3 separate regions of the Homo sapiens genome follow, and regions 2 and 3 are each linked to region 1. Evidence: fine-mapped expression QTL. A gene starts in region 1. Each other region holds a variant in brackets. All regions are shown on one strand. Distances are between the middles of the regions.

Region 1 (8,139 bases):
CCTTAGGGTTTTTTTTTGAACTACTTGCAATGGTAAGGATTGGAGTGTGCTTTTAGCTGGAGTAGCTGCTGTGTGTGTTGTGTGTGTGTGTGTGTGTGTGTATGAGAGACGTGCACCTATGTTAGCCTGAGGAGTGTATGTCTGTCAGGACAGCAGGGGCCTCAAGACTCAGGACTTTTATTAGGCCTCCAGTTATGGCCTTCCAGGAAGCCCGGCGCGGAGAAGCAGCAGAATCATAGAGATTAATAAAGAATGACGTTTGGAAATGGAGTGATCCAAAAGTGATCGCCACCATTCCTCCCGCAATGACCCACCGCCCTGACCAGAGGAGATCAGCCCTTAAAAGTTAACTTCTACAGCCAAACCCTCTTAGTAAAGGGCAACAAAGACCACATCCTGACACCTCCAAGGGGCACACGGTTTTTACAGCGCGTTTTATTATTCATAAAAAAATAAATTTATTTACATATGTTATTTCCTGTGGTAGTGCAGCCTCGGGGCAAGGGCGCGTTCCCTATCGCAGGATCACTTGCTATGGTAAGCCGCCCACCCTGCGCGCTCCTCCGCGCGGGGAAGAACCTGCGCGGCAGGACGTGGTGTTGGAGTTGGGGCGCCCGGAGCGTGGAGTGGGGAGACCTGATGCAGAGAGTCTGGAGTCGGAGCTGGGGGTGCTGCAGGTAGGAGCAGGAGCGGGGCGGAGAGGGAGGCCCGAAGAAGACCCCACACAGGTTGGCGCAGCGGGGCTTGGGGAGGCTTCAGCCCAGAAGTGGAGAGGGTTGACAGACGCCTGCCTGATTAGAAAAAGCCGGGAGCTTGGGAAGGAGACGGGATTGAAGAAGCCACCCGGCAGGGAGGCCGAACGGCCCAGAGCTCTCCGGGTAAAACCCGCCTGCGGTGATCTGGGAAGTGTGTCTCCACCTAGCCCTGCGAGCAGCGGCCTTCCTCCCGCCCGTTAGAAGGGCGCTGTGCTGGAGTACGAACCCGGCCCAGAGAAGCCACTCGCCCTTCTTTGTCACTTAAAACCCTGTCCCGACGCGGATCTCACGTCTAGACCTCTGTCTTTAAAGCGGATGTAGAGCGCGTTCTAACCGTTCCCTAACCATTGTGTCACCGCGAAAGGCCGGGGCTGTGTGGAACCGTCCCGCACGTGTGCGATGAATCTGGCTCCGCTGAGAACGGATCCGTGGGCTGTCTGGCGCGGGCTGGGGCAGCAGCCGAGAGTTAGTCTACAGAGCTAGGGCCCGAGGGTGGACCTGCGTCCGCGTCTCGTCACGAAAGGAAGCTCTTTTTGGAGAGGCAAAACGTGGTCGCCCAGATCCGGCGCAGCTGTAGCCGTGGGCGCTGTGCAGTGACAGCCACACCCGCCACCTGTCACGATCACAGTTCCAGGGAAAGGGGAAGGGTCAAGGAGAATCCAGCGGAAACTTCTTCCCATCTCACGAGCTCTCCCTTCTCTCCGTGGCCCCCAAACACTCGCATTTAACGAATAATCCCATCAAGTGAGTTCCAGTCCGATTTAAGCGGTGGTTCCACATAGTCTGTTGGCTGCGGAAACTTCTTTGGTGTCAGAGTCCGGTCTTCCCGAGACCACGAATGGCCATGTCTGTAAATCAAAAAGAACGTGAGATATTAGAGAGAAACGATTGTCTCAAACCGAAACAGCTCTCCTACGCGAACCCCAGATATTCCTGACTTGGAGTAGCTAAGATTTTATCAGCATTCTGGGAATTTGCATGTCCTCTCTCTGAACTAAGATTTTCATTTTACTGGAGGTTGATAATCCGAGACTTGCCATATCCGTTCACGCTTCTTCCTGGACTTTGCCCGCAGGATAATTTGGTGAAACTCATCTGACTTTGAGGTTCTGTCGTTTAGTTCCCTTCCCCAACACACACACACACACACGCACACACACACACACACACACACACACACACAGTCATCCACTCCAAGCTCCAAGTAGGAACTGGGCTTGGACAGGATTTTTCCCAAGCCGGGAGAGCTGGCAGATCAGAGAGGGACTTTCCAGATAAATCCCATCTGGGGAAACGTTACTATCTTCCACAAGCAATTTTTCTAAAAATGCAAATGCTCTTTTATAGAGCTCGGCCTTCCCTCCTTTAAGAAAGGGCTTGCCGATTCAAACCTGCCCGACTCAGCTGGATTAAGTTGGGCAAGGGAGATTTGCCGTCAGTCTGCAACCTGGTGGCAGATGGAGATGGAACCAAGATTTACCCTGGAAGTAGGATATTAGTCAATGGCTGTCACTGGGGTACAATGTTCAGAACGATGCAAACAGACACGGAGGGTTGATTCTTCTTCAGGGAAATGGCTGGCCACTCCCTTGATTTGGGAGAAACTAAACTGGCCTTCTCGTTCCCAGTCCCAGAACCTCCACCCCTTTCGAATTCTTCCCAACGGGCTGACCCTGCCCGGCGCCCAGGAGCGCCCTGGGTATCTCCTGGCTGCTCTCCCGAATCCTTGCGCGCCGCGCCCCTACCAGGTTCACTGGGTGCACGTAGCCGTTCTCATAGCGGTCCTCCTGCAACAGCTGCCGCAGGTGAGCGATGTAACTGGAAGCCAGCCGGAGCGTGTCCAGCTTGGAGAGCTTAGTGTCGGGGGGCACCCAGGGCAGGCTGGTCTTGAGCCTGGAGAAGGCTTTGCTCAGCACGCGCATCCGGGCACGCTCACGGGCGTTGGCCGCGTTCCGCTGCGACTGCTTGCACTCTGCGGCTGAGCCCTTGGCCGGGAGGGGCTTCTTGCCACCACCGCCCGCGCTACCACCTGCGCCGCCGCCCCCAGCCACACGGGGCCGCTTCCTCTTGCAGCCTTCCGCGCTGCCGGCTGTGCCCAGAGCGCAGCGCTCCTCCTCGCCGTCGGGGTCCTCCTCCTCTGCCGACGAGTTGTCACTGGGCGAGGCGTAGCTGCGCTCTACGCCGCGGAGGGGCGGCCTCTTGGAGGCGGGGACCGGGTACTCCCGCTGCAGCCCCCGAAGCTCCATCTCCTCCGGATCACTCACCGAGCCCGTGGACATCCCGTTGTCCCCCTTGCCCACACGCGTCCTCTTTCCTCCCCCCTGGCCAGTCTCGCTGTCTCCGCCTTCCGCTCCCTGGCGGAGGCGGAGGCCAGAGAGCGCTCCAAGGAAGACTAAAAACCCAGGCCGGGAAGCGCGGGGTGAGAAAGCGAGGTGGGTGGCGAGAGCGTGAGCGCCCCTCTGCTGACCCCGGGGAGCGTGGACTACGAGTTGGCGCCCAAGTCCAGAATCCGCGCGCACCGCGGTAAGCTGCGCCTTTTGAAAAGGCTATCTGTACTCCTTGGAACAAACCACCCCGGGCAAAGAAGAGGGGGTTGTAAAGGGGGCCAAGAGGTGGGGCAGGGGCGTGGAAGGGGTGGGGACCGCTTTTCTGCATGCCGAAGAGCGGTTGGTGGAGGCGGGGGAAGGGGACGTCTCTGCAGAGCCGAGATTTGGGCTCTGAAGCCCGACGGCCCTTCAACATGTCTGCGCAGGATAAGTGAGCTTTCGGGGAGTGAAGGGGCACATCTTGTTCCTACCGACGGTGCTTCTACCCCCAGGTAATCTTAGCAGTGGCAAAGATTACCAGACACTTAGAAACGACGGGATTCCGACCTCTGCTTGCCTGCCAGTCTTTCCAGTAGAACTCAGTTTTCAAGTTAACCATTCATGATGTATGATTGTCTACCCAAGCCTTGCTGGACAAGAGAAAAAGCAGAACAGGCAAACAACATCCAACAATGCACAAGTTACCTCTCATTTTCCTCCTCCTTTTCTTATAATATACCTTCATGGTTTACAAAAATGGTTACAATGGTTCGTTGCCTTTTCAAATAACATCTGTAACTTAATGATATTATCTCCAATTTGCAGAACTTGAAGCTGAGCCGCCTAGATAGACGTTAAGTAAAAGACCCAAACTTATTAGGCTAAGTAGAAAAAAAGATTCAAAATCCGCGTTTTGAAATTCTGGCCCGTCGGTATTCTAGTCAGCTCCGTGCCTCCGGGTCACACATCACTGGATGTTGTAGCTGGTATTTTCCACTATCTTGAGAGTTCCATGCGTGATGTGATTTTGTTTTAATACCACAATGCGTGTGTTGGAGGATCCGGCCCTAAAGCTTTGCATTATAATGTAGGGAATCCTTGCTATTGTATTTAATAGATTGTGTATTGAAGAGCGAGCTCCTGGAAGCAGAATGCTAAGTTAGCACAATCGTCCATTCAAAGTAAAAACGACAAAGGAGCACCCTGAATGATCATGTTCCATTCCAAACAAGACTAAAACATCCTGCTCTTCCACACAAGAAAACACAACAATTTTGCAGTCTCATTATTTCCTAACTCGAAGGTCATCGCAGTTCCTGGTCAGGGGATAAGTACGTCTGTGGATACGGGCCCCAGTGGTCAGAGACTGAGTGCCCGCTGTGTGCCCGTCACTGTACTCGCGGCTTGTGAGCAGCTCACTGAGTAATAAAACCCGTATGAGTTTGGCATATGGTTACCCCATTTTACAATGATGAAACTGAGTCGTCACACAGGCTTAGGTGTTCACTTGTTCTTTTCCTGAAAGTCCACAGGCTCCCAAGCTGAGCAAGGTGCAAGGGGACCTATGTGGAGTCAGTCCAGGACAGAGCTGGCAGAGATAGCTGGGCCAGCCTGGCTCCCGCCAGTTCGTACAGCAGAACAAATGCGTCCAGCTCGATGGCTGAAGTGCTGCAACAGGTGGCTGGCAGAGGCTGACTTCATCACTCAGGCATCATTCCACCTTAGTCTCCCAGGCCACGCTACCCTTAGCAGGGGCGTTTTGGGGCCGGGGGAATGTTTCACATAACCCCTCCGGCTCACCCACATTTGCAAAGGTTTTCTCCCTGTACAAGTTGTCTTTTGGTTGGGGGCAGGGGGTGGGCTGGTTCTGGGACAATGTGAATAAAAAGATCATTTGCCCTCAGCTCTCTCTAGGGTAGGGAAATGCAGGGAATATTTGACAGAGTGTAGAAATCTTTCCTGGAGCGTTTGAACTTGAACTTGACTCTAGGATCGCCTTGCCAGGTGAAGGAGAGGAGAGCGACAAAGAGGGGCAAAGAGATGGACCGAGGAGAGCCAGGCTAGCTCTCTGCAACGACTATTGATGACTTGAAGCTATCAGTATAAATATATAGTCTCACACATTAGGGGCAGGCGAATAGGTTTTTAAAATCTGAATTGTTTATACAGGTGCAGAACAAAGTCTTTCTTTAGAAAAGATTAATGGTGAGGAGAGCGCTAGATTTCTCTAAACAGTCACAAAAACTATACCCAGCCTCAACGCTGAGGAGGTCATGGCCAGTTTCTTTATTTCTTGAAGAAATGGTCTGACCCCACCAGTTCGGGCTTATTTTTCACAGCACTCGCCTTTCCCTCCCTGTCTTCTTTCTCTGTCTTCCCCTCCCTCCCTACTTCCCTCCCTTTCTCTTCTACTCCATCTCCTCACCCTCCCTCTGTTCGCTTTCAAGAAAGTCAGCTATTTTATTTTGTTTGTTTCATCATCTTTCATTTAACCTCCATTTCTTTCATTTTTGTGAAATTAAGTTATATTTTCACTTGTAACTCTGTTTTCAAGTTGCAGACTGGTAATGAAGGTTAGGAAATGTACCTTATATGCATTTTTTATAAGCATATAACTGCAGTTTGCTTTAACATGTTTGTAATATCTGGCATTTGGTCACCTCCTTCCACTTTCAAAGTGCTATTACTTTTTCTTCTCCTTGGATGATTACAACAGCTTCTCGAGCTGAACAGTGTAAGTATAACTCTCTCTTTTGAAAGCCCAGTGTTTTTCATGGTTTTGACAAGTGACATACTGAAATGAATAATACAGCCTTTATTTTTATCTTATAAACACACTGAAATCAATTCCTATTTGCTTATGCTTTACAAACTCTTAGATGTGAAACAGGTATAGACTGTTTGTGTGTACATCAATGGTCTTGAAATTCTTTAGTGACATTTAAAAAATATTCAATGGGGTGAGTAGGGCTTAAGTTGCATTATAAAACAAAATATTTAATAATTCTTTTAATATTACCTTTAATATTTCTTCATCCTGGCTTCCGTGCTTGCTGGATATATGACTTCTGGAATTTGCATTTTTTGAGCCCTAGTTTTCTAATCTATAAAATGGATTATCTCTCTGAGCGGAAGAGAAAGTATATGAGCAGTTGGCTAGGTCAGAGCCTGGTACATGGGAGAAGATCAGTAAATGCTAGTTAGTATTATGAATTGCCTTGCCCAATATCACACAGCTAGTAAAAGTTAGGGCAATGACCTGACCCAAGTTTTGTACTCCAGGGCCTATTCTGGGTTTCAGATAGTACCAGGGTCTTTCATTTGCTTTGACTACAGGCTGCTAGGGTCTGAAGTACATGGTCTCATCACATGACATTTTTCACAGGTCCCATGAGGGACTTCACTGAGGGAAAAATGGATGGGACGTCGTTAGAAATTTTCTTTTCGTCCCCCAAATTCTCTCACCCTAAAATTGCAGTGCTTTTCCAAGCCTTACTTTCCCTACTGGCATAAAGGATTAAGCCAGAAATCCTGCTGGTGGTGTGGTGTAGGTCAAAGGAGCATGCCCAGGTGGAACACAGATCAGTGCCTAACAGATTGAAACATTTAACAATGCAGGCTTGGTTTGTTTTTTAAAAAGGGAGCCATGAGATGGGATGATAATTACACATCATAGAAAAAAGGCCATTTGTTGCCACTTCCTTCCTCCAACAGCATATTAAGTAATGGGTGAGAAACTCTAGAACTGGGTAGGTCATGTGGACTTAGGACTCAGGAAGAGCAAAGGCTTCCTCTGTCCTCTGTGAAGGCCATGCCAAAACTATGTAGTGAGTAGGTACTTAAGAAACAGCAGTGGGACCAACCCACAGCCTCCTGTTGCCTGGAGGAATTGCCATACCTTCGGCCAATTGCCTATACTTTTGATCTAGGAAAATGAATAATCTAGATCAGCACTGGCCAATATGGAAGCCATTAGCCACATTAGGCTATTGAGCACTTGAAATGTGGCTATTCAGGTACTATAGTGTAAAATGCATAACCAGTATTGAAAACTTACTATGAATAAAAGAATATAAAAGCTCTCATTAATATTTTAAAATATAAATTTATGTCAATCTGTGAGGACATTTTGGATCTATTAGGTTAAATGAAATATATTACAAAAATTAATTTCACCATTTAAAATTATTATCATATGGTTACTAAAAATGTAGAATTAAATATACCGGTCCCATTATATTTCTATTGGACAACTCAGGGATTAATCTCATGGATTAACTATACCCCTATGGACTGAGTATCTACTGTTGGTTGTGGCAAGGTGTTGGTGAGACCCACTCTCACCCACTGGGAGGGCACATTCTTGTGGAAATAAGCTTCTCTGTATTATCCAGACTGCGTCTTACCACGTGTATTCAACCTCCTGTCTATAACACACCCCACCAGACACACACACGTGCTGGGAAAATGAACGCTCCTCCTCAGTGGTGTGTTAGTCACATGGAATGCTAGTCCCAGTGTGTGTTGGCCACGTGGCATGCTAGTCACATGGGGAGCCAGTCAGGTGGGGACAGGTCACGTGTAAGACCCAGGGTTAGGTCTGGATAACCCAAGGCCTGTCCCTTGTCTGCACAAAGCCTTGGGCTCTGCTCCAGGCTCAGGGCAGCCTCTGTCCTGGTGTTGTGCAGGATGCCACCACTCTTCAGACCAGGAAAGGAAGAAAACTCCCTTCACCCGGGCTCTACCAGCCATCAGGTTGGGCATCCATGGAAATAGTCAAAGCCTACATGTGGAGTCCTTTGTCATCCACAACACAAACAGGCCTCTGCTGCTGGTTTATTTATCTAAGGATTGCAGCAAGATTTTTTACCCTTCCCTCCGAAAGTCATGAGGCCTTAGCATGGAGAAGCCAGTGCCTGGATGGTTTGTGGAGGTTGAAGGTGGAAAAGCCAGGCTTAACAAATAAACAATGAAAAATGGGGCTGGGGGTAGGCTGGGGAGAGGGAAAGCGATAAGACTCAGCCTTTCAGGAGAAAAGAAAAACGCCCTCATTGATTGTCTTGACAACAAAAACTGTA
Region 2 (5,000 bases), 210 kb after region 1:
CTATAGTCCCAGCTACTCAGGAGGCTGAGGCATGAGAATTGCTGAAGCCCGGGAGGCGGAGGTTGCAGTGAACAGAGATCACACCACTGCACTCCAGCCTGTGCGACAGAGCTAGACCTTTTCTAAAAATAAATAAATAAAAATAAAAAATAAAAAACCTTTAAAAAATTGATGTAAACAACTGATATTTTAAATTTTGATTAATGGCTGAAAATCATTTCTTTTCTCTTATTTTGTCTCAGACTTCAAATCATCCCAACACCAGAGAACACTAAATGACAGTGGACAGGAAGACAGTGTACCTTTTGCTCCTGATGATCGTAAGAACAACCTCCTTCCTCTTATTGTGAAGTGCAAGGTGCAAAAAGGAGGCCTGCTGCTTGTTCAGGACTATGTCAGCATTGTGGCTCAGAAGAAGCGCAACGGCTTTGGCGTGGCCTTCCCTTGCAGCAAAGTGAAGTGCAGTGTTCTTTTGAAGAAAAACAGACACAGAAAACGTGGTGACAGTGTCTAATCTGTCTTATTTCACTGCTTAACTGCTTAAAAGACATTAGCGACACTATTTAATACCAAAATACATAGCACTTAAAACTGGTGTTCAGAATCAAGCTTCAAAATAATGAGTTTATAGTTCTAGCATGGTGTGTGTGCATGTGTGGGAAGTGGATCTGTGTGTGTGTGTGTGTGTGTGTGTGTGTGAGAGATAGAGAAAGAGAGAGAGAGAGAGAGAGAGAGAGAGAGAGAGAGAATGAATTCCAAGGCATTTGTTTTGTGTTGCTTTTGCAATGGGATGATTCCACAAGGACAAAGGACAAGCTTTCAGGGTAAAGATGTTGGGTTGAACACAGAAGAAAATCCTCCTGAGATTGATCATTTGTAGAACAGTGGCTTACAGATTTGGGGCTTCACAAGCTTGTAAATGTTTTTTAAAATCAGAGACTGTTATAAGTTTGCCCATTTTTAGTTTCTCCACTTAAAGACTTTTTTTTTTTGAAAAAGGCAACAACAGTCTTCTATCCCCATCATTTTATGAACAAACGTACATTTCAAAAGTTACTCTCCCCAAAGGAAGGAAAGACATAATAGCACAATAAAGGGCAGCATTTCAAATCAATACACTTCAAAATAACACTTATCTTAATGAAAACTCACCCCTGCCTTCATTTCTCTGGACCTACCAGGGAGTAAACGCTTTACCATCAAATTTCATTGGCCTGTGGACCTCGCTGCTCTGTGAGACTGGAGGTTTCCCCAACATTCACCCACCCCTTGGTATTCTCCCAATTCTGTTGCCTTTTGATTCATACTTCACCTCAAGAATCCACTTGCTAAACACCCAACAAAAGGCTGGGAATAGAGCAAGGAAGGTAAAAGGTGTCTAGGAGAGTTTTCTGGCAATGTTGGAAGTTTCTGCTATATTGAGATTTTGGGTAAGCATGAGGACCGCAGTACATACCCCGTCTTCATCCAGGCGATCTGTGCACTTCAAATTAGTATCAAGAATGACCTTCATGGTCTGAGTGTACCCGCCCATGGACGCATGATGCAAAGCTGTCCAGCCATTGTGGTCACTGGTAAAGAGTTAAGAAAAGATGTGTGCATACACTTAACAGATGAAATGCGGGATGGGATGCCACTTGGCTTATTCTAGGTAAATCTGATGACAACAAAAAGCATTATTGAGATCTGGCAACTAAATATTTATAAAACATTTATAATAAATGAGCTAATTCCAAGCTCAATGATCTTAAATGACCTATTTCTAATGTGATTCATACACGTTTTTTACTTAGTGGTTTAAAATATGAAAGTATATAAACACATTACCAAACACTTTGGGGTAGGAGAAGTACGCTTAGCATGTCTGTGTCATACCTAATTTTTTTAAAGCTATAATGAACTGATACACATCAATTTAAATCTTGTTTTATTCTTTCAATGAACACTGTATCAAAATTTTTTTATGAAGTAATGTTAGTCTTTGTGGTCAATAGTTATTGGTAATACTACTAGTAATATG[A/G]TACATGGCTATAAGATGCTTAGCTTAGTGTCAGTTATTATTCTAAGAGTTTAAATCTAAAAAGCTTCCCTCTTGTGCTCTGAAAAATGCTTACTCAATTGCTTTGAAAAATGTTTATCCTTTTCCACAGAAATTCAAGATGTAAATACAACAAAGCCTTGTCATATTAGCTATCTTTTTTCAAATTAGACAGAAAAAAATTCTTGACACTATTTAATTTCAGTGCTAGTGAGCAGATGTTTTAGGGTGCAAGAGCCATGTTGCTATTTCAGTTATGATGTAATTAAGCAACAACTGTCTGGCCTGGGTCTACTTCGGTCCCCTTTGCAGGTCAGTTGCTTGGTGTTTCTTTGTAAACCAGAAAAAACTGAGCAAAACATTCATTCATGTAGCTGTAGCACCAATTTGCTGGCATCAATATTATGGTAAGGAAATGTGTTTTTGAACATTAGCCTAATAAGCTCTTTGCTACTGCTATGGTAAGATATCAAATGAAAAACCTCTGTAAAACATTTCCAGGTTTTTTCTTTCTTATCACAATATCATTTAATTATGCCACATATTTTATTATACTTACATATTTTAACTTTGTTTCTTGTACTTGAGTTCATTTAAGTATAATAAAATTCAGAAATTTTTACCATCTCCTGTTGTCACTTAAAGGGAACTTTTTATGCCTACCATTCATCAGATTGAATGAAAAGTAGAGTATTTGAACTTGTATGTTTTGTGTGTGTGTGTACGTGCATACACACATACACAACCACAGTTTTGTATCTATATAGGAATATGGCAGCATGATGAGGTAAAATATGAGAAACTATGTTTCAAAGAAAGGTTCTGAGAAAGACTGCACAAAGCCAATTATTCTGTGAACAGAATATTCTTGAACAAGGTTCTTCAACGCTATAAACTTCAAAGTCTTTGTCAGTTGGAAATAATACTGACTTCCCTTTCAGTATTTTTAGAAGTTACATATGTTTTGATGAAAAAATAAATTGGATAAAAGTACTTAGTGAGATATAAAGTTAGACCTCATAATTAAAAATATAATGAAAAGATAGCCTGAAAATGGCTAATTAAAGAAATTATATAAACACTCCAATCATATATCCTCACCTGAGAAACAATGCACCTTTTTTCAGAAGAAGCTGAACTACTTTATCATGTCCATTCTTTGCTGCCAGATGGAGAGGAGTCATTCCATGAAGGTCACCTTCATTCAGAAGCCTCGTATCACTTATGTCTTGTAGGAGCCTCTGACAGGTATTGATACGCCCATAACTTGGAAAAAATTAGGTTTCATATTTTCAAGGCAAATATTAAACAGAAAGAAGACATGTTCATACATTGCTAGACTGACCCTTACCTGGCTGCAAAATGCAGAGGTGATTTCTTATCTTTGCTTTTGGAATGAATGGACACATTAAAGCCAAGTAGGTTATTTACAGAACCAGGGCCCCCCTGTCTACATGCATAATGTAGAGGAGTACACCCATCGTTGTCTTCATCCATTACCAGCTCTTTGATCTGTTGCATCTATAGGAAAAAATTAATATCATACAAATAACTCTGCTATTATGCTAATATGATGGTTTTCAAACTATTCTGTAGGAAAATATTTTCCAACAAGGGTCAATATGTATTCCTTGGGGCCAAAATTGTAAATAACCTAAAGGATTTGAGAGTAATATAAATATGAATGAAGTTGAATGCTCTGTCTTCATTTAGTGTACATTACCATATTAGTGTACATTACTGTATTAAAGGATCTGAGAGATCATGCCAATAGGAAAATGTACTTAACATTTTTAACTCAGCATTTTTCAAATATATTTGATCATGGCCCTTCCCTCTGCCCCTCCTCTTATTTCCTCCCACCCCCAAATAACACCCAACAGCTTCATGTTAATATGTTCTGTTAGGTAAAATGGATGGGATGTAAACATTAGGTTTATTTTATGTTTTATATGTATAGTAAATAAAAAATGAATGATAAATGAGAAGCTTAAGCCTATCAATTAATATTTTGTTATTTTTTAAATATTCAAACACATATATATTTTGATTATTAAATACTGGCAATATTGAAATCTATTGATGATAAAAATATGATGTATTTCACATACATGTGCTAGTCACTCAGTAAGTATTAGCTGGTGAATATAAATATAAAAATAATGCTTTCAACCTCTCCTCAGAAAGTCAAGTATGCTGAGTAATTTTTCTTAATTGATGGTGGAGTATTGATAATTCATTCTTATATTTGGCTTTTCCACTGATATGCAAATCATAATGGTCAAAGAATGAAGAAAATCAAACTAATTAAGGATGTTATCTTTATCATAGATGACTGCATATTAAGTTTCTTTGTAAGTTAAAAAACTCAGTCTCACTACAATTAATTATCATTGTCATAATCATCACCACCACCACCATCACCATGTTGTAACTAAATAGTCAAATATGTCATCTTTATTTTAAAACATTTTTAAAATTCCAGAATCAGTTTATATAATAACAAAAATTATAATAAACAAAATTAGTTTATTTTCTGTTGAACCCAACTCAGTTAATGGCAATCCACAGATATACATTACCTGCATAAATTCAGGTCGCAGATTTTTTAATCCATAAGGTTGCTGTACAGTTAAATGCAGAAAATTACGTCCAAAATTATCTTTTATGTCTACTTGGGCACCTAAAAAAAAACACTATGTAAATATAAATTCTATTCATTTATTTAAAGCAATGTTTACGTGGATTTTCAACTTAGCAAAAAAAAATTTGACTAAAAATATTGTCGACCTTTAGTTTACAGGAAATTGTGTTTAGATGAGAAAACTAAACATATTTAAAATCAGGTTTAACTTACTCTCTGTGTGTGTGTGTGTCTGTATGTGTAAGTGGGGTAGAAAATATGTGATGCATTACATAAATACATGAAGCCTTACCTTTTAAAGCATAAAATGTAAGTATA
Region 3 (11,277 bases), 170 kb after region 1:
AGCTACTAACTAGCCCCTTTTGATTAAATGTGGTGGTAGCCATGGACCAGCAGCTACTGAATTGAGCAGAGGGTCAGAGGTGAAATGGAGAGAGAGCTCTGGGAATGAATGTGTGTGCAGTAGACTTTGGAAGCCATTAGCTCACAGTCAGGTAAAGTGGCCCTCTTTAATAAAACACCCACACACACTTCAAACTTCCAAAGTTCACTCTACAGGAGGTTCTACTAGGAGGAAAGAAGGGGGTAATGGACCATGCAGTATCAAATCTGCAATTAGAGTATAATAATTACCACTATCCCTATGATGCTGGCCTTGATGGGCTCTGTTTCATCATTTAAATATTTTTAACTAAGCATGAGCAAAATCCCTTGACTCGATAACTATCACACAGCTGAAAAGGAATAACAGATTCAAAAAGAAGCTATAGGAAATTAGTGAGGAAAGAGAGAAATAAACATACAGAGTGCCATAAAACCGAATATTTGGCTTATTTTAAAAACGTGCTTGCTCTCTATGAAGTTTCAAATGTGATCCCATTCCCCATGGATTTCCAGAAAGAAAAATAAGACCTTACCTAAAATATGTCATTAACTAGTTTCTACTCTACTTCTTTAAGACTGCTCTTTCTATTTAACAGTTCACTTCTTGCAAGCCATTGTGGACAGTTGTGCCTTTCAGAGACCAGATTGGGCCAAGTCCTCTCTGTCTTTTAGCTAAAGCCCACTCTCCCAGGAAATGCTTCTGCTCTAAGACTCAAACATTCCCTGTTAGGTGAGGTCACTGACATCAGAAATGGCCTCCCCCTTTAGAGCTGGCCCTCTATACACAGGTAGTGTAATTTTGTATTTTTTCTTATTCTCTGTGGTAGAGATTGTTGGTTGACTGCCAACATCTATTGGCCCATTTCTCTAAATAACAGAATGTTTATCTGGGCACACACCTGCATGGAATTAGAATGATATTTCCCAGTGTCTCTTAAAGAAAAATGTGGCCACTTTATTAAATTCAGGTAATGGCATATAAGTAAATGATGATGTGTAGATTGCAGGAGCCTTCTTTAAGAGACAGCTGGTGTACCTCTTTTTCCTGTCCCTTCCTTTAATCCACAGCCTGGAACATGGATGCTTGCATTTTGAATCCTGAGGACAAGGACTACTTGCCTGGATAGTAGGGTGATAGGATTATGTGGAACAGAGTTGCCGTATTAGCCTATTAGTCTAGTAGGACTCACTTTTAGACTTTGTTTATAGAGATAAATAAACTTTTTGTTTGTATTATTTTTTAAAGCATAGTTATTTTGAGTTTTGCTTTTGGAGACAGATCTTTTATTGCATTCCCCTCCTTCCCCCAAAATTCTTAGGTTGAAGCATTAACCCAAGGTACTTCAGAATGTGACTTTACTTGGAAATAGGGTCATTGCAGATGTAATTATTAACAGTTAAGATGAGGTCATTAAAGTGGTCTCTAATCCAATATGACTGCTCTTCTTATAAAAAGGGGAAATTGGGGTACAAAGGCAGACACACGCACAGGGACACACACACACACACACAAACACACACACACAGAATGCTGTGTAGATGAAGGCATGGATCCAGGTGATTCCTCTATAAACAAAGAAACGGCAAAGATCGCCAGCAAATCACAAGAAGCTAGGAACGAGGTTTGGAGCAGATTCTCTCTCACAGCTCTGAGAAGGAATCAAGCCTGCTGACATCTTGGCAAGCCTCTAGAACTCTGAGACAATAAATGTCTGTTATTTATTTTCTAGCCTTAGCAAACCAATATACAATCTTAGCCAATTAAAGGCTGACTAGAATAACCTTAGCTTAATCTAGGGCAATTTTCACACCATTCAGACAGCAGAAACTACATACACATATCCATGTACCCATCTGAACTTCTGTCATAATTTCTCAGTCTATCAATTTTAGCAGTGTGGCCAAATGTCAGTTTCTCTGGAATGCCAAAATAAGGGAATTTTGTTGTGGCTGTCCTATGAAAATGAAGCTCTGTCACAGAGAAGTGTGTGAGCCAAATCCAAATACTGAGTTTATTTTACTGTCCAAATAGAATATTTTCACCCCAGTGAAGCAATTGTAAGCATCTCATCCAAAGCATATTCACTATCCTTGAGTATTCTTGGTTGCTTATTGAATGAATAAGTGAATGAGGTGGATTTGGCTGACACTAACCTTTGGGATTACCTCACAGCTTGCCAGTGGCAAGCTTAGTAAGTACTGGGCCATAGTGTTTGAGGATAGGTCTCTAGAGTCATATGTCTCTAAGTTCAAATGCTAGCCTCCTGTATTAGTCTGTTTTCATGCTGTTGATGAAGCCATACCCAAGACTGGGTAATTTACAAAATAAAGGGTTTTAATTGGACTTACAGTTCCACTTCACTGGGGAAGCCTCACAATCATGGTGGAAGGCAAGAAGGAGCAAGTCACATCTTACGTGGATGGCAGCAGACAGAAAGTATGAGAGCCAAGCAAAATGGATTTCCCCTTATGAAACCATCAGATCTTGTGAGACTTATTCACTACCATGAGAACAGTATGTGGAAAACTGCCCCCATGATTCAACTATCTCCCACTGGGTCCCTTCCACCCACAACATGTGGGGATTCAAGATGAGATGTGGGTGGGGACACAGCCAAACCATATCACCTCCTTTCCTAGTTGCTTGGTTTGGAAGAGTTATGTAATCTTTTTGAGCTTCAATTTCCTCATCTATAAAATAGGGAAGATGCTAGTTACTCTCTTATAGGGTAGTTATGATTTATTTTATGTGAAATGTTTAGAATGGTCCATGCCATGATGTACTGCAGTTGGTTTGTACTGGCTCACAATGACCAATAGTACACCTTTTTTCTGATTCTGCCAATCTTCCCATCCTCACATCCAGTGACATCATATTGGTAGTTTGAAATTAATTGGCCATGGTGAGAATATTTACACTACAGATATTTGCAAATACTATACAACAGGGGCTAGCTTGCCAGCACACCGTTGGTTAGATGACATCCGTAAGTTCTGTATAAATCTTAACATTATTATTACTCAGTAGGTACTCCTGCTCCCTTATGGTTTTGAGAAGGCCTTCTTCTAGTTAAATAAATCATTTTGAATTAAAATAACACTGATGGGACTCTTAGCAATGTTTTACCTCTTGGGAATCACTGCCTACATTTGTGGTCTATAAATCTGAATCCTTAATTCACTCGGATTGATTTTTGGCTCCGTGAAAGCAGGAGCTTTTCTCACTGCTGTAGCCCCCACACATGGCACAGGCCTGGGACAGAGTAAGCACTCATAAGTATTTGTTAAGTGAAAAAATAAATGAATGAAAGTATCCCAAACACTTGCATTTTCAAAAGGTTTTGACATCCACTTCCTTTTCTTCTCAAAGCTACGCTTTGAGATGGATAGGTCCTATTTTACCTCTATTGCATCGATGAAGAAACTGCAATGCAAAGAAGTGTCTAATTAGTCATTTGCTTCCTTTCATCAAATATGTCCATTACACCAGTGTTTCTCAAAATGTGTTCCATAGATCATAAATCCTGAAGGATGTTAATAGTTATTATGTGCCAGGGGACCCGTGGATATATAAGTTTGGAAAATAGTGAAGTAAAAAAAAAAAAAATTGGTTTACTTACTACAAGTTTTCTCAGAGCCTTATTAAGCCAATGTGCATTGTGAACACAGGAGGTAGTGGAGATAGTTAAAGTATGCAGCATTTTCTATTTTTGACTATAGTTTGCTTGATTGATTTTTTTTTTTTTTTTTTAGACAGAATCTTGCTCTGTTGCCCAGGCTGGAGTGCAGTGGTCTGATCTCAGCTCACTGCAAGCTCCGCCTCCCGGGTTGACGCCATTCTCCTGCCTCGGCCTCCTGAGTAGCTGGGACTACAGTTGCCTGCTACCACGCCCGGCTAATTTTTTGTATTTTTAGTAGAGATGAGGTTTCACCGTGTTAGCCAGGATGGTCTCGATCTCCTGATCTTGTGATCCGCCCGCCTCAGCCTCCCAAAGTGCTGGGATTACAGGCGTGAGCCACTGCGCCGGCCACTTGATTGATTTTAAATGAAGCATCCAGCAGTGTTAGTGTGAAACTTCATTAGGTAGTACTTTTCAGACCTTAACTTGCATATGAATTGCCAAGGGAACTTACTAAAATGCAAATTCTGATTTAGGAGGGAAGAGTGCCTAGGGCAGGGACCTGAGATCCTACATTTCATCTTCTTTTTTCTTCTTTTATTTGAAACAAGGTCTCACTCTGTCATCCAGGCTGAGGTTCAGTGGCATGATCACAGCTCACTGGATCCTCAAACTCCGTGGATCAGATGATCATCCCACCTCAACCTCCCAGGTAGCTGGGACTACAGGTGCATGCCACCACACCTAGCTAATTTTTTAATTTTTTTGTGGAGACGGGGTCTTGCTTTGTTGCCCAGTCTGATCTTGAACTCCTCAACTCAAGGCAATCCACCTGCTTCGGCCTCCCAAAGCTCTGGGATTACAGGCGTGAACCACCATGACTGGCCAGAGATCTTGTATGTCTAACAGGCTCTCAGAGGGTGCCCATGCTGCTGGCCCACAGGCCACACCTTGAATAGCAAGGCACTAGAACATACAAGAGTCAAGAAGAAATGGCATCTTATTGAAAGACCAAATGAGAACACTAAAACACCCTATTGACCCTCAGGACCAGCTGTTAAAGAAGCATGTTGTTCAGAGGGGTGAGGAAATAAGGGACAAACCCCCATATGATGAGCAAGTAATGAAGGAACATAGAGCTAAACTAAATAGCTGGAGTAGGGCAGGTCTTTTCAGCTGAAGTCTAGGTGGTGAATTAATTAGTGAAGGGACACAGAGATGGCTAAAGGGACCCTTGATTGCTTTGTGGACCAAAATAGCTTCATTTTTGTCATTAAAACCTAGGTTCAAGGAGAAGAGGGCAAGGCCCACTATTGGTTCAGACTTAGTTATTGTTTTCCTTCTCTATCCACAAACTCAAGTTCCATGAGTTACTAATTTTTTAAAAAACTTTTTAATTATTCAAAATGGAATATGAATGTTAGAAATTGGAAGGGAAAAATGGGGACTGACATAAAAAGAGGTTAACCTGGGTCAGGTGAGGAAGTAACGCTATACAATGTATTCAGCTATTTAAAGGCTTCAGAAATGCT[C/G]GTATCTTTTACAGACTGATCTTCCTGACTTCATCTGGTCCCTGCTTTGACCTGGAAACTTAGCTTGGGTACCTGTGTTTCTCCAGCAGTGGCTGTTCTCTGCTGGTGCCTTGTCCTAGCAGACTCTTCTCTCCTAGTTCCTTGGCAACAGTGTTCTAATAACCTTTGCGGGTCACACAGTTCCTAAGTGTGGAGCTGGGATTAGGCTAATGGAGGTGTTATAAGACTCTCCAACAATATATTCATCAATGATTCACTTCTACTAATTATAACTCGACATATTTTGGTAACTTATTGAAAGCAAAAAGGTTAATAACTCATGACTTCCTTGTAGGTCAAATCTTTGTCCGTGTAAAGCAATAATTTTGCCTAATTTTATATTTTTTCCCTTGCATTCTTTGGGTTAAGTTCATTTTGTCACTCCTGCTCTTTATATTTGTATATTTATTTGTTCATCTTTCTATAATACTAGTTTAGATTATTCTCTAGCGATTACATTTTTTTAACCCAGAAAGGAAGTATTGTGTTTTTTACTGAAGTTTAGATTGGTTGTCAGAACTCATAGATTTTATTTTACTTGTGTAGTCTTGTTCATGTTTTTGCATTTTTGTAGGTCTTGATGTTTTCTTTTACTTAATTTTTTAAGCTTTTCTTATATTGCCTGTTTTGTTTCTTTTTATCTTTTTTCCCATGTACTAATACATACTTATTTTGTTTAAATTATATTCTTGATTTCTGAACAATTAAAAAAAGAAATTATCCACCCTATATTTTTTAGTTACAAGTATGTTATGAAGCAGTATCTTTAATTTGAATAGAATTGAGTCCTTGCTAAGAAAAATGAATGAGATAAGGTATTTCATCTTCTGTTCACCACTCGTACCTGTGAAAGCCAAACAGCCTGACTTTTTATAGCTGTCAGTGATCAATACTGAAGATATAATCTGTCATTACAAAGCAGCTGGCTTGGGCTTTGAAATGTAAACAGTGATAATTTATGAACGGGTTAGTCATTTTCCCATAAACATCTGCCCATGTACCCTGTGTTGTAATACATTCATGCTATTGCGTTCCTTGTCTGTTGTAACATTCGTTGATTAGTAAATATTTATAGATGTCTCTTGTAACAAAGTTTGGCTTTGGGCATGATCAGTTAAAAATAAATTTTAAAATATCATAAAACAACTATGTAGTGCCCAAGAAGACCTTAGAAAATATTCTTTTCTTCATGTTTCTGCCCTGTGTTGTATTGGTCTTGTCTTATCTGGTAGAATTGTCATACATGTCAAATGGGGAGCCTCATTATGATGAAAAATGAAACAAAGGGTGCTTTTTTTCCATTACCCTATACCCTGAAATAGCCAAAATATACACATATGGCACCAGAAGAACAGGGAGTTTGCCTTTTTCTAGCTTGTTTTAAAAGTGCAGTGCAGACAAGCTAAATCCAGCTGGGAATTCTGTGGGTCACACGCATTAGGCGGTGCAGAATTGAAACCTCTGTCTAGAGCAGACTCTCAGAAGATTTACATGCAAGGTTAAGCTAGCATATTTTTGTTTGTGTTGCCTTAAATCTTCTCCTTTGAAGGTTATGATAGCTGCTCAGTGACTAAGTGGTTATTTTTTTAAATCAGTGATACATTCGTTGTTTAGAAGGTATCTAATACTTCTTGTCTTAATAAAAATGTTAATAACAGATGAAACTCTGTATATTAGCATATCTCAAGTGTATAATCCTAGTTTGCTATTTACCCATCTGATTTGTGTAACATTATACTGTCATTTAAAATATACTTTTAAAGCCAGATTTTACATTTCAAGTTATCTTTAGTAATAACTCTCAGTACACTCACTTGTAAATAGTTGCTATAAACTATTCACTTGTAAATAGTTGCTTTTCAGACTGTAAAAATATATTTACTCATCCCTGTAAGCTTAAATTTTGCAGCTAATTACTATTTTCTGATACTTTATGTATATATACATATATTTTTTCTTGAAAATTATTTCCAAAAATAATTATTTAAATGCAAATCATAACAATAAATGAAAACATTTAAAACACGTACTTATTTTTGTAATTGCCATTCTAAATAATTTAATCAAAATACCCCCATTCTGATTTCTTTCCCATTCATCTTTTCCAAGAAGTTAAGAACCTGAATTTTAAAAAACACTGTACCCAAGCAGCAAAACTGTGCCAAACTTGAAAGGCCGACCCCACCTTTTGGCTCTATTGACCCTAATACTTTTCCAATTAAAGAAAAACTTAACAAAAAATAGAATGCAATGACTACTTTAAGCCACTTGGCACTTTGGGGCTTTATTCTGTTTTCAAACTGGCATATGATAATTGAATTTTCTTGGGGAAAACTCAAAGCAGCAATCCAGCTTTTTCGAGATACTCCACTTGATGAATCTCCACTCCCAAAGAACATCAGTGAAGCCCTCGTGGTATTATCTTTGTTAACAAAGAGTCACCACATTTTGATGATTCTCATTCTAAGTGCTAAGACTTAAAATGGCAATATAAAACATAGCTCAAAATGTTTTAGTAGAACTTAGCTTTATCTCTTGTTGACTTTTCTTTACAGTTAAAAAATATAGAAACCACTTTAAAAGCATGCAAAAAAAAGCATGTCCCATAAGCAATTTACTTCATATTGTGAAATTAACATGTTCCATATTTCAAAGGTTTGACAAAGCTCTGTGCGTTGTCATTGACTAATTGATGGAAACTTTCAAAATCTCTGATCCTCTGGCTGGTTATTTACTGACAGTGTCCTTTATGGGCTTGTGTCTTCTGCATTTCAAGGACTCATGTGGCAGCATAGAAACAAAGGATGTTAAAAGGTACAGTCAGATCCTGCACACTGGGTGTTAAGTTTACAGTAATTTGGATGAGTGAAGGGCCATTTCATTATCTTATCAACTGAGAAGGAATGGCAGAGCTGACCACTAGACTGGGATGCTATAGAGGTTTTAGGGGCACAACTTGGTTTTATACTTGGGAATGAGACAGGAGTTCAGCAGGACTTGTTTCACAAGATACGAATCACAAAGACCTTGCTGGTAAAACAGGATGCAATAAAGAAGCCAGCCAAAATCTGCCAAAACCAAGATGGCAACAAAAGTGACTTCTGGTCATCCTCACTGCTCATTATATGCTAATTATAATACATTAGCATACTAAAGGAAGAGCCCACTGGTGTCACAACAGTTTACAAATGCCATGGTAACATCTGGAAGTTAACCTATATGGTCTTTCAGTGGGAGGAGCCCTCAGTTCTGGGAATCCCCTGCTCCTTTCTCAGGAAACTCATGAATAATCCACCCCTTATTTATCATATGATCAAGAAATAACCATAAAAATAGCCAATCAGCAGCCCTTAGGGCTGCACTGCCTATAGAGTAACCACTCTTTTATTCCTTTACTTTTTAATAAACTTGCTTTCACTTTACTCTATTGGCTTGCTCTTGAATTTTTTCCTGCAGAAAGCCAAAAACCCACGTGGCCTCCTGGGGTGAGTCCCACTTTCAGCATTTGCCCTGCGACAAGTAAAAAGACTATTTGATTTAATAAATCCTCCATCTTATTTAAATTTGGGTGATTTTAGCATATTTATAATTGGGAAAGTTTTCAAAGTGATACAGGATGGTGATAAATGCACACATGTTTACAATTCAGTATTACAGCTCTCCAAGAGTTTTCTGGTTTCTTTTACCACACTCAGAATTTGAAAGGCAACCATCTGGGTCATGAAGATGCTTGCTGATCAACTGCTGGGGTAGAAGAGACTGCTGCAGTAGAAGAGACTTTAAGTCCCTTGCTGAAGACTGCAGTCTGGCTTACTGGTTTTAGTTATTTGCACTACCTAACCTGTATCTCAAGGACTGTGGACACCATACAACATCACAGAAAACTTGATGCTTGGAGGTTTATCGGATTATGAAAGATGTTGTGTCTGCCTGTGGTATCCTGAAAGTACAGATACCTGCAGTCTTGAACCTCAACTTCTGGATTATTTCGATTATGAATTCTTTAGACAGTTTTTTTTCTTTTTCTTTTTTATTTTTGAGACAGGGACTTGCTCTGTTGTCCAGGCTGGAGTGCAGTGGTGCAATAACGGCTCACTGAAGCCTTGACCCCGCTGAGTTCAAGTGATCCTCCTATTTCAGCCTGTTGAGTAGCTGGGACTACAGGTGCCTGCCACCATGACAGGCTATTTTTAAAATTTTTGTAGATATGGGGTCTCACTGTATTGCCCAGACTGGTCTCGAACCCCAGGACTCAAGCAATCCTCCCACCGTGGTCTCCCAAAGTGTTGGGATCATAGACATGAGCCACTTCCCCTGGCCTTAGACAGTTTTGGTTCCTTCAGAATTAATGATCTGCATCTGCAAGGCATATGGATCTCCACTGATTTACAGGGGGTTTGCCATTACTGAGTTGACTTGTAGACAGAAAAACAAACTGCCTTTGTTGAGCCATTTGACTTTTCCTCATATTTTTCCCTTTTGTGAAAGACCTTAACTGAGGATCCCTGCTTTGCCTCTGGAATATGCCTGCAGTAATGTTTGTTGAGAAATCTGAGTTTGGGAGTAACTGTTCCTGTGGGGCTGTAGAAGCTGGTTGTCATTCTAATAGATTCCTGAGCCTTGATATTGCTTCAAATTAGATTGTTGCAAGTTTAGAAGGTGCAGGTGAAGTTTTCCTTTCAGGTTTTGCTGGTACTGACACAAGCACAGACATGCTGCCCATGAGTGATAATCTCCGTCTTCTTCATCCTCTTCTCCATGAATTTTTAAAACAACCTAAATTACCACTGATAACTGTCTCTTCTGAGAGTTTTCTCCCTCAATACTTATTTTTTTCAGACTTGGTTCTGGAGAGCGGATTATGTCTTATTTAAGCTATTAAGTATTTCTGATTCACATAAAAGTATAGTGTTCCTCCCTTTTCTGTGGGGGGATACGTTCCAAGACCCCTAGTGGATGCCTGAAAGCATGAATAGCACCGAACCCTATATATGTATGTGTGTGTGTGTGTGTGTATATATATATACTATGTTTTCTCACATACATACATACATACATACATACTTATAATAAAGTTTAGTTTACAAATCCGGCACAAAAAGAAATAATAATAACAACTAATAATAAAATAGGGCAATTATATAACAATATACTAAATTTATGTGACTGTAGTCCCTTACTGTCAAAATATCTTATTGTACTGTACTCACCTATTTTCTGATCGTGGTAGACCGCTGATAACTGAAACTTTAGAAAGAGAAACTAGGGATAACGGAGGACTACCATACCACTTCATACACCTGTTTTGTGCATCTATTTATTGGCAGCCTGTATTATCTGAAGCGATTGAAATGGAAACTTTTTAAATAAGTGCCACCATCTGCCTTTGGACTTGCGATATTAAATCTCAATAGAAAGAGGAGCAGAAGCATAGGTTAATGTCGCTGTAGGTTTTCCTGAGATGAGAGATCCTCCTGCACACAAGGGAGGTCTCAATGAGGTCTTCTGGTTCCAGCTCAATATCAATTACACCCCTAGAGGGCGCTGTTTCCCTCAGCGGTTTCCTTGATGTTTGCAGCTCAGGATCGTGCCTCCTTTTGCCTCCTAGCTGGACACCTTTCGTAGGGTGTCTGGAGCTGGAAATGGCAAGGGGTAGCCCACATCTTCCTGTCTTCTGTCGTCTCCTATCACTTCACTAAAACTAACAAGCAAAATCAGAGCCAAATGACAAGACGACTTGCTTCAGATTCTAGGAATCAGCCCAGTTCAGTTCACTCTGTGGCTTCATGATGGGTTAAATTTCATGATGGGTTAAACAACTTCACTCATCTATACCTTCAACAATTGTGCCATAAGTCTGAAGTCTATGACTCAGGCTTCCTGACTTCAGTGTCTGATCACTTGTTTTTATTATGTTTGTGGTGTCCCATGTCCCTTAACCTTAAAATGCACTTACCTATGAATGTTACATTGCAGGTATCCACTCAGTAACCTCTGAAGTATAAAGTCAATGAAGAAAGGGTGCTCTTTTGTCCGATTCTTATT

The links. PIP is the estimated chance that this variant, and not a neighbour inherited with it, causes the effect. A credible set is the group of variants that fine-mapping cannot tell apart.
Region 2: its variant is the best candidate, but not a certain one, in a credible set for the expression of MSC-AS1 in whole blood (INTERVAL, PIP 0.58).
Region 3: its variant is the best candidate, but not a certain one, in a credible set for the expression of MSC-AS1 in whole blood (TOPMed, PIP 0.79).

The regions. Positions count from the first base shown.
Region 1 is chr8:71,841,145-71,849,283 of GRCh38, forward strand. MSC-AS1 (MSC antisense RNA 1) reads left to right here and starts at 1,979. Exons shown (of 5, transcript NR_033652.1): 1 at 1,979-2,560; 2 at 3,085-3,278. It overlaps MSC (musculin), which reads right to left and starts at 3,268. Exons shown (of 2, transcript NM_005098.4): 1 at 2,501-3,268; 2 at 416-1,603. The coding sequence starts at 3,034. The coding sequence ends at 1,517. RefSeq lists an enhancer at 61-921 and silencers at 2,617-2,886, 4,726-4,775.
Region 2 is chr8:72,052,297-72,057,296 of GRCh38, forward strand. TRPA1 (transient receptor potential cation channel subfamily A member 1) reads right to left here. Exons shown (of 27, transcript NM_007332.3): 10 at 4,621-4,721; 11 at 3,390-3,559; 12 at 3,140-3,304; 13 at 1,457-1,571; 14 at 303-469. MSC-AS1 (MSC antisense RNA 1) reads left to right here. Exons shown (of 5, transcript NR_033652.1): 5 at 243-4,016. Among named protein-coding and RNA genes, the nearest start is that of TRPA1, 21 kb to the right of the region's middle. The variant A/G (reference allele first, on the strand shown) is at 2,021.
Region 3 is chr8:72,007,960-72,019,236 of GRCh38, forward strand. The region is part of intron 4 of MSC-AS1 (MSC antisense RNA 1); the gene reads left to right. Among named protein-coding and RNA genes, the nearest start is that of TRPA1, 62 kb to the right of the region's middle. The variant C/G (reference allele first, on the strand shown) is at 5,194.